Linked DNA regions of Homo sapiens: region 1 is linked to region 2. The links come from fine-mapping of genetic effects on gene expression. A gene starts in region 2. The other region holds a variant in brackets. All regions are shown on one strand. Distances are from middle to middle. Region 1 overlaps CEP104 (centrosomal protein 104). Region 2 holds the start of CEP104 (centrosomal protein 104).

The links. PIP is the estimated chance that this variant, and not a neighbour inherited with it, causes the effect.
Region 1: its variant is fine-mapped to the expression of CEP104 in cerebellum (GTEx, PIP above 0.99). The same link has a PIP of 0.9 or more in transverse colon.

Annotation. Positions count from the first base shown.
Region 1 is chr1:3,828,552-3,833,924 of GRCh38, reverse strand. CEP104 (centrosomal protein 104) reads left to right here. Exons shown (of 22, transcript NM_014704.4): 12 at 1-63; 13 at 2,703-2,879; 14 at 3,928-4,134; 15 at 4,552-4,659. Among named protein-coding and RNA genes, the nearest start is that of CEP104, 26 kb to the left of the region's middle. RefSeq lists enhancers at 2,125-3,324, 3,408-4,607. The variant T/C (reference allele first, on the strand shown) is at 2,404.
Region 2 is chr1:3,854,628-3,860,000 of GRCh38, reverse strand. CEP104 (centrosomal protein 104) reads left to right here and starts at 2,790. Exons shown (of 22, transcript NM_014704.4): 1 at 2,790-3,112. It overlaps DFFB (DNA fragmentation factor subunit beta), which reads right to left and starts at 2,525. Exons shown (of 7, transcript NM_004402.4): 1 at 2,284-2,525; 2 at 1,157-1,283. The coding sequence starts at 2,397. RefSeq lists silencers at 1,644-1,693, 2,624-3,123 and an enhancer at 2,304-2,483.

The sequences.
Region 1 (5,373 bases), 26 kb after region 2:
TTGCTCACCAGAACTGGAGATTCTTCTGCCCGCCTCCGCGTCACAGCTGCAAATTTTATTCAGGTCTGAACTTCACCACGGCATTTGAAACCGTAGATGATAAACATATTCCTGTAGCTCTCTGGCTTTCTTAACACCTTTTACAAGATTCTGTCTCTACTCAGTTAACATTATTCTCAGGGATTCACCATCACACTTTCCTTATGCTCTAAAAGGTCAGTTTTGTCTTAGACATAAACTTCAGTTAAAATCTACAGTTGGGTTTTTCCAATGTTTTTTTTATCCAACATATGCCATTAATTTTTTAAATAAATAAAAACACACAGAAAATGATATCAAAAGAGAAAATCTGAGGGTAAAGAAATAAAAAATATAACTGTCTTAATAGAAATATTTTCATTCTTTCACCAAATATGCCTCCTCTAGGCTAGATATTATGGGAAATATTGAGATAGAGATAAATGTATGAGTTTTGGGGCACACAGTTATGCACCATAATTTGAAAATCTTTAAACTAGCTAATGAATTCATCTAGTCTAGGAGTTCTTAAGAGTCCTCCTTTGGGCTTAAGAAGCTTATGAATTACGTTAAGTTTTACACAAAATTTTGTGATGTGCAGATCCTTCTTAAAAAAGAATCCAGGCCAGACTGGGCACGGTGGCTCACACCTGTAATCCCAGCACTTTGGGAGGCTCAGGCAGGTGGATCACAAGGTTAGGAGATCGAGACTATCCTAGCCAACCTGGTGAAACCCCTTCTGTACTAAAAATCCAAAAATTAGCCGGGTGTGGTGGTGCGTGCCTGTCGTCCCAGCTACTTGGGAGGCTGAGGCAGGAGAATCGAACCCGGGAGGCAGAGTTTTCAGTGAGCCGAGATCACGCCACTGCACTCCAGCCTGGCAACAGAGTGAGACTCCATCTTAAAAAAAAAAAAAAAAGAATCCAGGCCAGGCGGGGTGGCTCACGCCCATAATCCCAGCACTTTGGGAGACCAAGGCAGGCAGATCATTTGGGCCCAGGAGTTTGAGACCAGCCTGGCCAACATAGTGAGACTCTATCTCTGCAAAAAATACAAAAATTAGCCGGGCATGCTGATACACCCCTGTAGTCCCAGCTACTTGGAAGGCCGAGGCGAGAGGCTTGAGCCCAGGTGGTTGAGGCTGCAGTGAGCCGTGATCTCGCCACTGTACTCTAGCCTGGGTGACAGAGAAAGACAGTGTCTCAAAAAGAAGAATCCAAAGGGGTCATTTCTCCAAAATATGAGGAACCACAGATCTAGTTTCATTTAATAAACCTAAATTTTCAGAGTAAATAAGGAAAAGGAATGCTAATAAAAAGGTAAGAAGAAATGCTGTCATGCTAATGTGCTACACTACACTCCTGGTTATGACCTACACTACACTCCTGGTCACGACCTACACTACACTCCTGGTCACGACCTACGCTACACTCCTGGTCACGACCTACGCTACACTCCTGGTCACGACCTACGCTACACTCCTGGTCAGGACCTACGCTACACTCCTGGTCACGACCTACGCTACACTCCTGGTTACGACCTAATGTGCTACACTACACTCCTGGTTACGACCTACACTACACTCCTGGTTACGACCTACAATACACTCCTGGTTACAATACACTCCTGGTTACAATACACTCCTGGTTACAATACACTCCTGGTTACGACCTAATGTGCTACAATACACTCCTGGTTATGACAGCTAGAATTTGGGGGTGAGGAGGGTTCATCTTTCAAAAGATATGTTGCAAATGAGCACATGTTATTGCTTCATTTAATTATTTTTAAGCCACATTAATTTCTGAGCAGTTTGGTGGTGCTCAAATGTTCTCTCTATGTGAGACAACCTTAAGGCAATCTATCGAGGGTTACAATTGTGCACCAGTGTGCCGGTTAGTGGACGAAATACACACTCAACAGCATCTGTTTGTAGTTAAGGAGTTTACTGTCCAAACTTCCCTGGAGAATGCTCTTCTTCTCTTAGCTTTTAGATTTGTACAGAGTCACTCACAGGCCCAAATCCAGAGTGAGTCAGGCCAGCACGATAAGAGATTATTTTAGGTGATAAGACCTGCAGACCTATTGGAAACAGGTTTATTTCTGATTGTAACTTAATGATTCAACATCTTATTTTTTTCTCTATATCCGGTTAATTAAGTGATAAATATCTTAATTACGTAAAGACTTGTTTGTTTAGAGACATTCAAATATGTAATGGTACTTACATTTTTTCCATCTTAACCCACTGGTGACCGTATCACTGCAGAATCATACACTCTTGGCTGACATTTAATAAATACTAAAATAACGGTGATTCTAGCAGCAGCTCTAATTTCTTTTAGAATTTTAGAAATGAGAAAACCTTTTCCTTGAAGCTGAGAA[T/C]ACTGAGAACAGAAACCTTCAAGTTTTCAATTACGCTTCTGAAAAGCTTTCAGTAGACATAAAATCGTTTTATTCTTCATGATTTTATTTCCTGTGGCTCAGATTTTCATTTCTAATGGTTGTTACGCTTTAAATAGAAATACAAGCTTACGGATCAGTGCTCTCATTGCTCCTTGTCACTATCAATCTGTATTTCCCTGTTTTTCCCTTCAGTGTTTAGTTTAAGATCATGCTGAATTGTACTAAACTGCCTCCAGCATTTTCCAGTAAAAATTAACAAATTACCTTGGCTTTCATAGGAAATGGCCTTGTTTAAAGAAGTTAAGTCTCTCCAAATTATTCCATCCTACCTGGTGCAGCCATTGAAAGCAAACTCTTCAGTTCACCTGGCAATGAGTCAGATGGGCCTCCTGGCCCGGCTGCTGAAAGACCTGGGCACTGGCAGCTCGGGCTTCACCATTGACAACGTGATGAAGGTAAGCAGACCTCGCGTGTGACACACCACGCGGCCCAGCACTCACCACAGTGCCTGGAGCGTGGCGAGGGTCTCATCGGCATTTGTTGAAGGAATGACTGAGGCAGTGATTTCAGAAAAATAGCCAGTGTTTCATCCAACAAATGGGGGCCCCCACATGCGTCCTGCTGTCTAATCCTACTCGGTGGTGCATGGTGTGTGCAGATCTTTATCTGTGGAGAGAAACAAATCATAAAAAATATTTCTTTGTCTTTTTTTTTTTTTTTTTTTGAGATGGAGTCTCGTTCTGTCGCCCAGGCTGGAGGTGCAGTGGTGCCATCTCGGCTCACTGCAAGCCCTGCCTCCTGGGTTCATGCCATTCTCCTGCCTCAGCCTCCCAAGTAGCTGGTACTACAGGATGCCCACCACCATGCCCGGCTAATTTTTTCGTGTATTTTAGTAGAGACGGGGTTTCACTGTGTTAGCCAGGATGGTCTCGATCTCCTGACCTCGTGATCCGCCCGCCTCAGCCTCCCAAAGTGCTGGGATTACAGGCGTGAGCCACTGCGCCCGGCCTGTCTTTAAGAGACAATAACAGCAGTGTGATGGAGAATATCAGGTACAGGTTGAAGCCCCTTATCTGGAATGCTTAAGACCAGAAGTGTTTAGGATTTCAGATTGTTTTCGGATTCTGGAATACTTCCATTATACTTACTGGTTTGGATCCCAAATCCAAAAACCTGAAATCTGCACATCGGCTACGCAGGAGCGCACACCTCCAAGGAGGATGAGAAACTGTGGGCCCCCGAGACGCACAGCAGGGATGAAATTGCACTATAGCCACAGCGTTCTGTTTCTTAAAAAAGATCCAAAACAAGCGTGATGAAAGTATAACACGGCTTACGATGAGACGGTAGATCCGTGAGGTTTTATGTTTGAAGTATTTCATAATACTTAATACGGATGTTTTCTCTTTTATTTTTCACATGTTTATAATGTACCTTTTTTGTAAGCTGGAAGAAATTAGTTTTATTTTAAGAATGAGTAACAAGAGCCCCTCCCAACTTTAGTTTTCAGTGAGTGCCCTGGAGCATAGAGTGTATGAGGTCCGCGAGACGGCGGTTCGAATTATTTTGGACATGTACAGACAGCACCAGGCTTCCATCCTGGAGTACCTTCCTCCAGACGACAGCAACACACGCAGGAACATTCTCTACAAAACAATTTTTGAGGGATTTGCTAAAATAGATGGCAGAGCTACAGATGCTGAGATGAGGGTGAGTTAACTTTGGTGAAGTTGTGATGTCATCCTGTGTTGAAGAAGTTACTCAGTTACTCGGTACGTAAATAAGTAAATATGTCATTTGAAGGAGCCACATGTATGGGAAGCCCCGGCGTCCTGGCTAAGAAAGAACACAGGTTCCCGCATTCAGATCCCGGCTGCTCCACTTTCTGCCAGTGAGACCCTTAGGTTCCCAGGCTGCAAACGGAATAACGATAGCCGTGAGGACACAGTGGGTTTATCTATCAATAGACACCAATGAAATCAATGGAAAAGACTTATTCTAACTTGTTATTAGTCTTAGTGAATATTATAATTTATAAGAAATATAGTTGATATGCCATAATTTGTCTCCCAGTTTCTAAGATTACCCTAACAAGCTGTTCTAATGGAAAAATAATTTTCTTACCAGGCACGGAGAAAAGCGGCTACAGAAGAAGCAGAAAAACAAAAGAAAGAAGAAATAAAAGCTTTACAAGGGCAGCTGGCAGCACTGAAAGAAATTCAGGCTGAAGTTCAGGTTGGAAGTTAACACGTCTTTCACCTGTGTGCTTTTAGCTGAAATGTATTTTGCTGTATAGATCCACATCATACTTGACTTATTTTTCATGGGATTATGCAAATGAGCGTCTTGATTCCTTTTGGTTTTTTAGGTTAGTTTTGGGGTGGATGACAGAAGCCCTCCATGGAGAGGTGGAATTGGGTGGCAGATACTCTTCCTGCCCCTCCATCCTCTGTCAGAATTGATGTGAGCTGCTGCTGAGGTTTAGGGAGGGACCAGGGGCTGTGGGCCCAGAGCTGCTCTCCTCCACAGCTCTCCAGCCACCTTCAGAGGCAAAGGAGAAAAATCAGCTTGACTATAAAGGTCTGACTTCAGCGCATTAAAAAGGGAAGGTTTCAGGTAAACATTCTGTTTCTATGAGCCCTTACTCTAAGCCTGTGGGGGTGTCATATGTACTGGGAACAAATACTATTTGGTTGAATATAAATGTGTTCCTCTTCAGCCTCCCAGCTTCTGGGATATGAATTAGCTTCATAACACTAATTTTATGATGAAGTTTCCTTCAGTTGAAAGAAAATTTCCTTAAAAAAAAGATATAAAGGTGGCAGAACACAGGGAGTTTCCGTTCCGCAGACCTGAGTTTTCAGCCGTGCCAGGTGAATGAGTTCTGGGACCTGCTGGCACCTCAGGCCTGCAGCCCACGTGGCTGCACAGTGCACGCAGAGCTATTCA
Region 2 (5,373 bases):
GAGAGAGAGAGACAGAGACAGACAGAGAGAGCCAGAGACAGAGACAGAGGAGAGAGACAGAGACTGCGAGATGCAGGGAGAGACAGAGAGAGAGCAACGTGCTCTGCTGTCTTTCAACTATGCCCTGAAATGGGAAAGAAAGATAACATCCAAAGGTGAGGCATACCCTGAGCATACCCCTGCCCAGCCCCCACCTCCTGCAGGGGCCACCCCAGGGGGCATCACAGTGATACATTTTCCAGCTGCCTCCTCTAAAAGCACAAGGCCCAGTGGAGAAAGGGGGTTTGCAACCTTGGAGCACACACCAGAGGCGTCACCCCTCAATGCTGACAGTGGAGCCCCCAACACTGTAGCCGGGGAGGTGGCCACATGGATGTTACTCTTCGACTTCTCTCTTTTTGCCCCTTAGGCCAAGGAGCCACAGCTCCATCCCTCAGAGCACCCATGTCCTTCCTGGGCTGCCAGAAGCATCTCCTGGAGCCTGACCCCATTTGCACAACACTGGCCGACCCTCCCAGGTAAAGGCACATGATGGCATCTCCTGCCCCAGTGGCCAAAAGCTCTCTTTTACGGGAGTCAAACAAGCGCAGACCTTGGCATTCGGCTGGTTCTGAAAGGCAGGACTTTGTGTCCTGAGGCTTCAATACAGATGCCCCGAAAGAACCACCTCTCAAAGCAATTGCCCCCAAACTTGAGCCCTGAGGACAGCATCTTAGCAAACACCAACCGAGAACAATGTGAGAGCATCCCACGAACCACCACCTCGTCCTTCCAGAAGGGTGCTCAGCCCAGCAGAACAGAACAGCATCTCTTCCTGGCTCCACCTTCCCCATGAAACTGTGCAGGCCCCAACCCCAAAGCCCTCCCTCTGCTCTTGGGAATTGCTAGGACACCTCAAATGAACGCAAATAAAATTAAAAGATTTTTTGAAGAAAAAGACGACCAATTGAACAGCTGGGTTCATGAACGAGAGGACTGAGGACTCTGCCACCTAAGCGACGCTGACCAGTTCTGCCTCCAGAGGGCTTCCTCCTTGAGACCCGAGAGTTCACAGTAAGGGGGACTCTTCCCCACCCTGATGGGCACCTGGAGCTAAGCCCCCAGGACCTCGGAGAGTGCCAGCTTCCCGCCCACCTCCAAAGTCCTTGCCACTCACAGCCCTGCCAGGCCTGGCCCAAGGTGAGCAGCACCAGCTCGGCGTTGTCGGGAACACTGGGGAAGTAATCTTCCGTCAGCTCCGTGCCATCCTCGTACAGGCACAGCCGGGAACCGCGCTCAGGGAGCTGCAGGGACGGGAGAAGCAACAGGAGGAGGAAGGGTCTCAAGACGAGGGCTTTGCATCTGCAGGCCTCACAAACGACCGGAATGAGCTGTGCTTAAAGAAGCAGGCTCAGGCTGCCGCCTGTATGCCACAGTCGCTCCAACGCCCAGGCAAGGATGAGGGAGCGGGAGCAAGGGCGCCTGACTGCGGGCCGTTCTAAAATACGAAGAGTCAGGAAAAACATACATCAGGGGGTGACTGCTGGCTCTGCAGGATTCACCCTTTTTAAATGAGCTCCTGAGGGCGCTTCAAATAGAGCCTGTCTTTGACAGCGCCGCCTCCCTGCTGCCAGGAGCTGAACACCACCATCCCCAGCACACAGCCGCCAGAGCGGTGCTGGCACACGAAGGAGAACGGTTGGTTGCCTCTGTGCACAAGTGTGACCGGCACGTGGCACTGTTAATTTGTTGGAGTCCGGTTCCCTGTTACTCTGCACTGGTCAGTTTTAGGCATTTTATGGCTACTCCCACCCCACCCGCACCGACCCCGGCAATGCACACCTGGTAACCCTAGTACTGGTCTAAAAAGAAAACCAACCTAGAATAAGGTGACGATTGCAATCCCCAGCTGCGAGGGCTGGAAGGGGCCTGCAGAGCCCACCTAGCCAAGCCTTTCATGTTACTCAAGGGGAAGCTGAGGCCGGACAGGCAGAGCAGCCGTGACCCCGCGTGCCAGTACCTGGCACTCTACCCGGGTCTCCTAGCTCTGATGCAGGGCTGTCCTGCCCGAGAGGTGGGAAGAGGGAAGGGGTGATCCAGGTCGTCCCCCAACCCCCCTGCGTTCTGAAGCCACGCTCAGGAACCCCAGGCTGCGGGGGCCCGGGGTCCTAGCGGCTGAGGCGAACGAAAACTACCCGCCCCGGGCGCCGCCTGCACCCTCCGTTTTGGAAGAGGAAAAGCGGCACCTCCTATTCTCCCCACACGCCTCCCCGACGGGCCGTCCCCGCCTAGCCCAGCGGGCACCTGGAAGCGGAGACAGCCCTTGCGCAGCACCTCCTGGCAGCTCCGGCCAGCCACGCCGAACTTCCTCGGGCTGCGCAGGGCCCGCAGCTTCACGCTCTTGGGCTTCTGGAGCATTGCAGATGTCCTCAAGCCCTCTGGGTCCCACAGGCGGTGGCACCTGCTGCCCAGCTGCTCAGATCCGTCCTCGCCCTGGCCGCAGGGGTCTGCACCTGGTGAGCTCTGCAAGCTGGCACAGGCCGGGTGCCGATCCCGGAAACTACATTACCCAGAAGGCCTGGGAAAAGTGAGGCCCGACGCGGTCTTGTGCGCAGGCGTCGCCCCACGGACACCACATTACCTTACTCAGAAGGCTCAGGAAAGCAAAGGCGCGACGCCACCTGGTGTGCCCAGGTGCCGTGGCCCCGGAAACTACACAACCCTGAGGGCCAGAGTAGCGGAGCCCTCCCCTTGTGCGCAGGCGCGGCCTGGGGTGGGGCGGGGTCGCGCACGCGCAGAGGCCCTGGCCCAGGGCTGGGCTTGGTTGTCATGAGAGTGGAGGCTGCGGCCGGGGCTATGGGCAGAGGTGGCCGGGTCTGCTTCTTCCCTGTCACTGCCGCAGCAGCTTGGGGTGCAAGGCGGCCTGGGGCGGCGGAAGGGGCGCCCCCCGAGTTCCGTCTGAGGAAGCGGCGGCTGCCGAGGAAGTCCACGAGAGCCGGGTCCCGCACGCCCCTGGGGTCCGGGTGCTGAGGCGCCGCCTGGCCGCCTCCCCGGGCCGCGGCACCGCTCCGACCCAGCCGCCCTCTCCACCGGGGCCGCGGCAGCGCCAGTCGGGGCCCTTCCCTCTAAGCAGGTACCTTCCGGGCCGCTGCGGCGCCGGCCCAGGGCCGGAGTGGGGAGCGGGGCGCGGGGCGCGGGGCGCGGGCGCCGCGGGGGCGCGGTCCCCACCTGGGAGCTGGGTACGAAGCCTGGGTGCGCGGTGCAAGCGCGGACGGTGTGGAGTTAGATGCCGGCCTTGCTGTCGCCGAAGAGCCGGCGCGGCCCCGTCGTGCCGTATGCCGGGGAGCTCAGCACGGGTGCTGGGACCGCCTGCCCCGGCCGGGACGGCCCATTTAGCGTGGAATATTGTTTTCAGATCCGGCTTTTCCTCTTCTGGATGCGTAGCACATAGGGGGCCAGTTTCAGATGTGTTCTGCTGAGCAAAAGTTTGAGGAAAATTGCTCTGTCCCTATAGAGATTAAAGTCTGATGGTTGGTTGTTTTTTGTTTTGGAGTTTGTTTTGTTTTGTTTGCACTTAAGTTCAGATTTCTCTGAAGCCCTTTCAGTCGCTAAGATGACTTGATCAGAAACCCATAAGCCTTTGAGACGGTCTCGCTCTGTCGCCCAGGCTGGAGTGCAATGGCACGATCTCAGCTCACTGCAGCCTCCGCCTCCCGGGTTCAAGCGATTCTCCTGCCTCAGCCTCCCGAGTAGCCCGACTAATTTTTTTATTTTTAGTAGAGACGGGGTTTCACCATGTTGGCCAGGCTGGTCTCGAACTCCTGACCTCAAGTAATACGCCCTCCTCGGCCTCCCGAAGTGCTGGGATTACAGGCATGAGCCACCGCGCGCAGTCACACTTAAAAGTCTTCTTAAAAAGAAAATCAGAGACAAGTTTTGTTTCCTAGTCTTGTAACAAAATGGAAGTTGCTACACTGAGTTTCCGTTTAATTTATAGTTAATTGCCTTTTACCATGCCAGCACTAGGAAAAGTGTAGTGAGGGATGAGACCGCCATGGAGTCATCGCTGCCTGGGGAGAGATGTACTCTGGCATTTGTCGGGATGTCGATGGCTGCCCCTGGGACAACAGGGATCCCTCATGCCTCTGGTGAGGAAGACCAGCCAATAACTGGATGTTCAACAGAGCTTTGCTTCTTCCCAAATTGTTAATGGTGATTTTTATAGAGCCTAAAAGTGGCATCCTTCAGTGACATTCCAAGTATCTTATGTAACACTTGAAGGTTTACACAGAGGGGACCCTAGGGTACAACTGGAAGGTCTTTGGGAGGGGGTAGACTAAAAAAGGAATCCTTTTCAAATACCAGACTGAGGTAATAGCATTGCCTCCACAGTCCCTGTGCATTTCTCTTAGCTGGTTCTTAAATGCCAGTACTTTGTTTTAGATTTGTTGGGGGCAGTATAGCATACTGGAAACACCCTTCTGTTTGACTGAAAAGGTCCTATATTTATGTCTTCGAGCCGTAACAGAGAGTGTTGGTTAGGTTCAGAGACTAGCCAGGCTCGGCGGCTCACGCCTGTAATCCCAACACTTTGGGACACTAAGGTGGGAGGAGTTCAAGACCAGCCTAGACAACACAGTGAAACCCCATCCCTACAAAAAAAAAAAAAAAAAGTAGCTGTGCATGGTGGCATGTGCCTGTAGTCCTAGCTGCTCAGGAGGCTGAGACAAGAGGATCATTTGAGCCCGAGAGTTCATGGTTACAGTGAGCTATGATCACGCCACTGCAGCAGTACAGCCTGGGCAACAGAGCGAGAACCTGTATTAAAAAAAAAAAAAAAAAAAAAATCGGGGCTGGGCTTATTGGCCACGCCTGTAATCCCAACACTTTGGGAGGCTGAGGCGGGTGGATCACCTAAGGTCAGGAGTTCGAGACCAGCCTGGCCAACATGGTGAAACCCCATCTCTACTAAAAATACAAAAATTAGCTGGGTGTGGTGGTGCGCACCTGTAATACTAGCTACTTGGGAGGCTGAGGCGGGAGAATCACTTGAACCCAGGAGGCAGAGGTCGCAGTGAGCCGCGATCACGCCACTGCACTCCAGCCTGGGTGACAGAGTGAGACCCTCTCTCAAAAAAAAAAAAAAAAAAATTTGGAGACTGGAACCCAACAGCCTGGGCACAAGAGGTATTTTCAAGGTGGAATAGGGAGTGACAAGCCCTGCCCTGAAAGATGATGAAAGGGGCCTGGCATGGTGGCTTATGCCTGTAATCCCAGCACTTTGGGAGGCCAAGGCGGGCAGATTGGCCAGGAGTTCGAGACCAGCCTGGCCAACATGGCAAAACCCCGTCTCTACTAAAATACCAAAAAAAAAAAAAAAAAAAAATTAGCCAG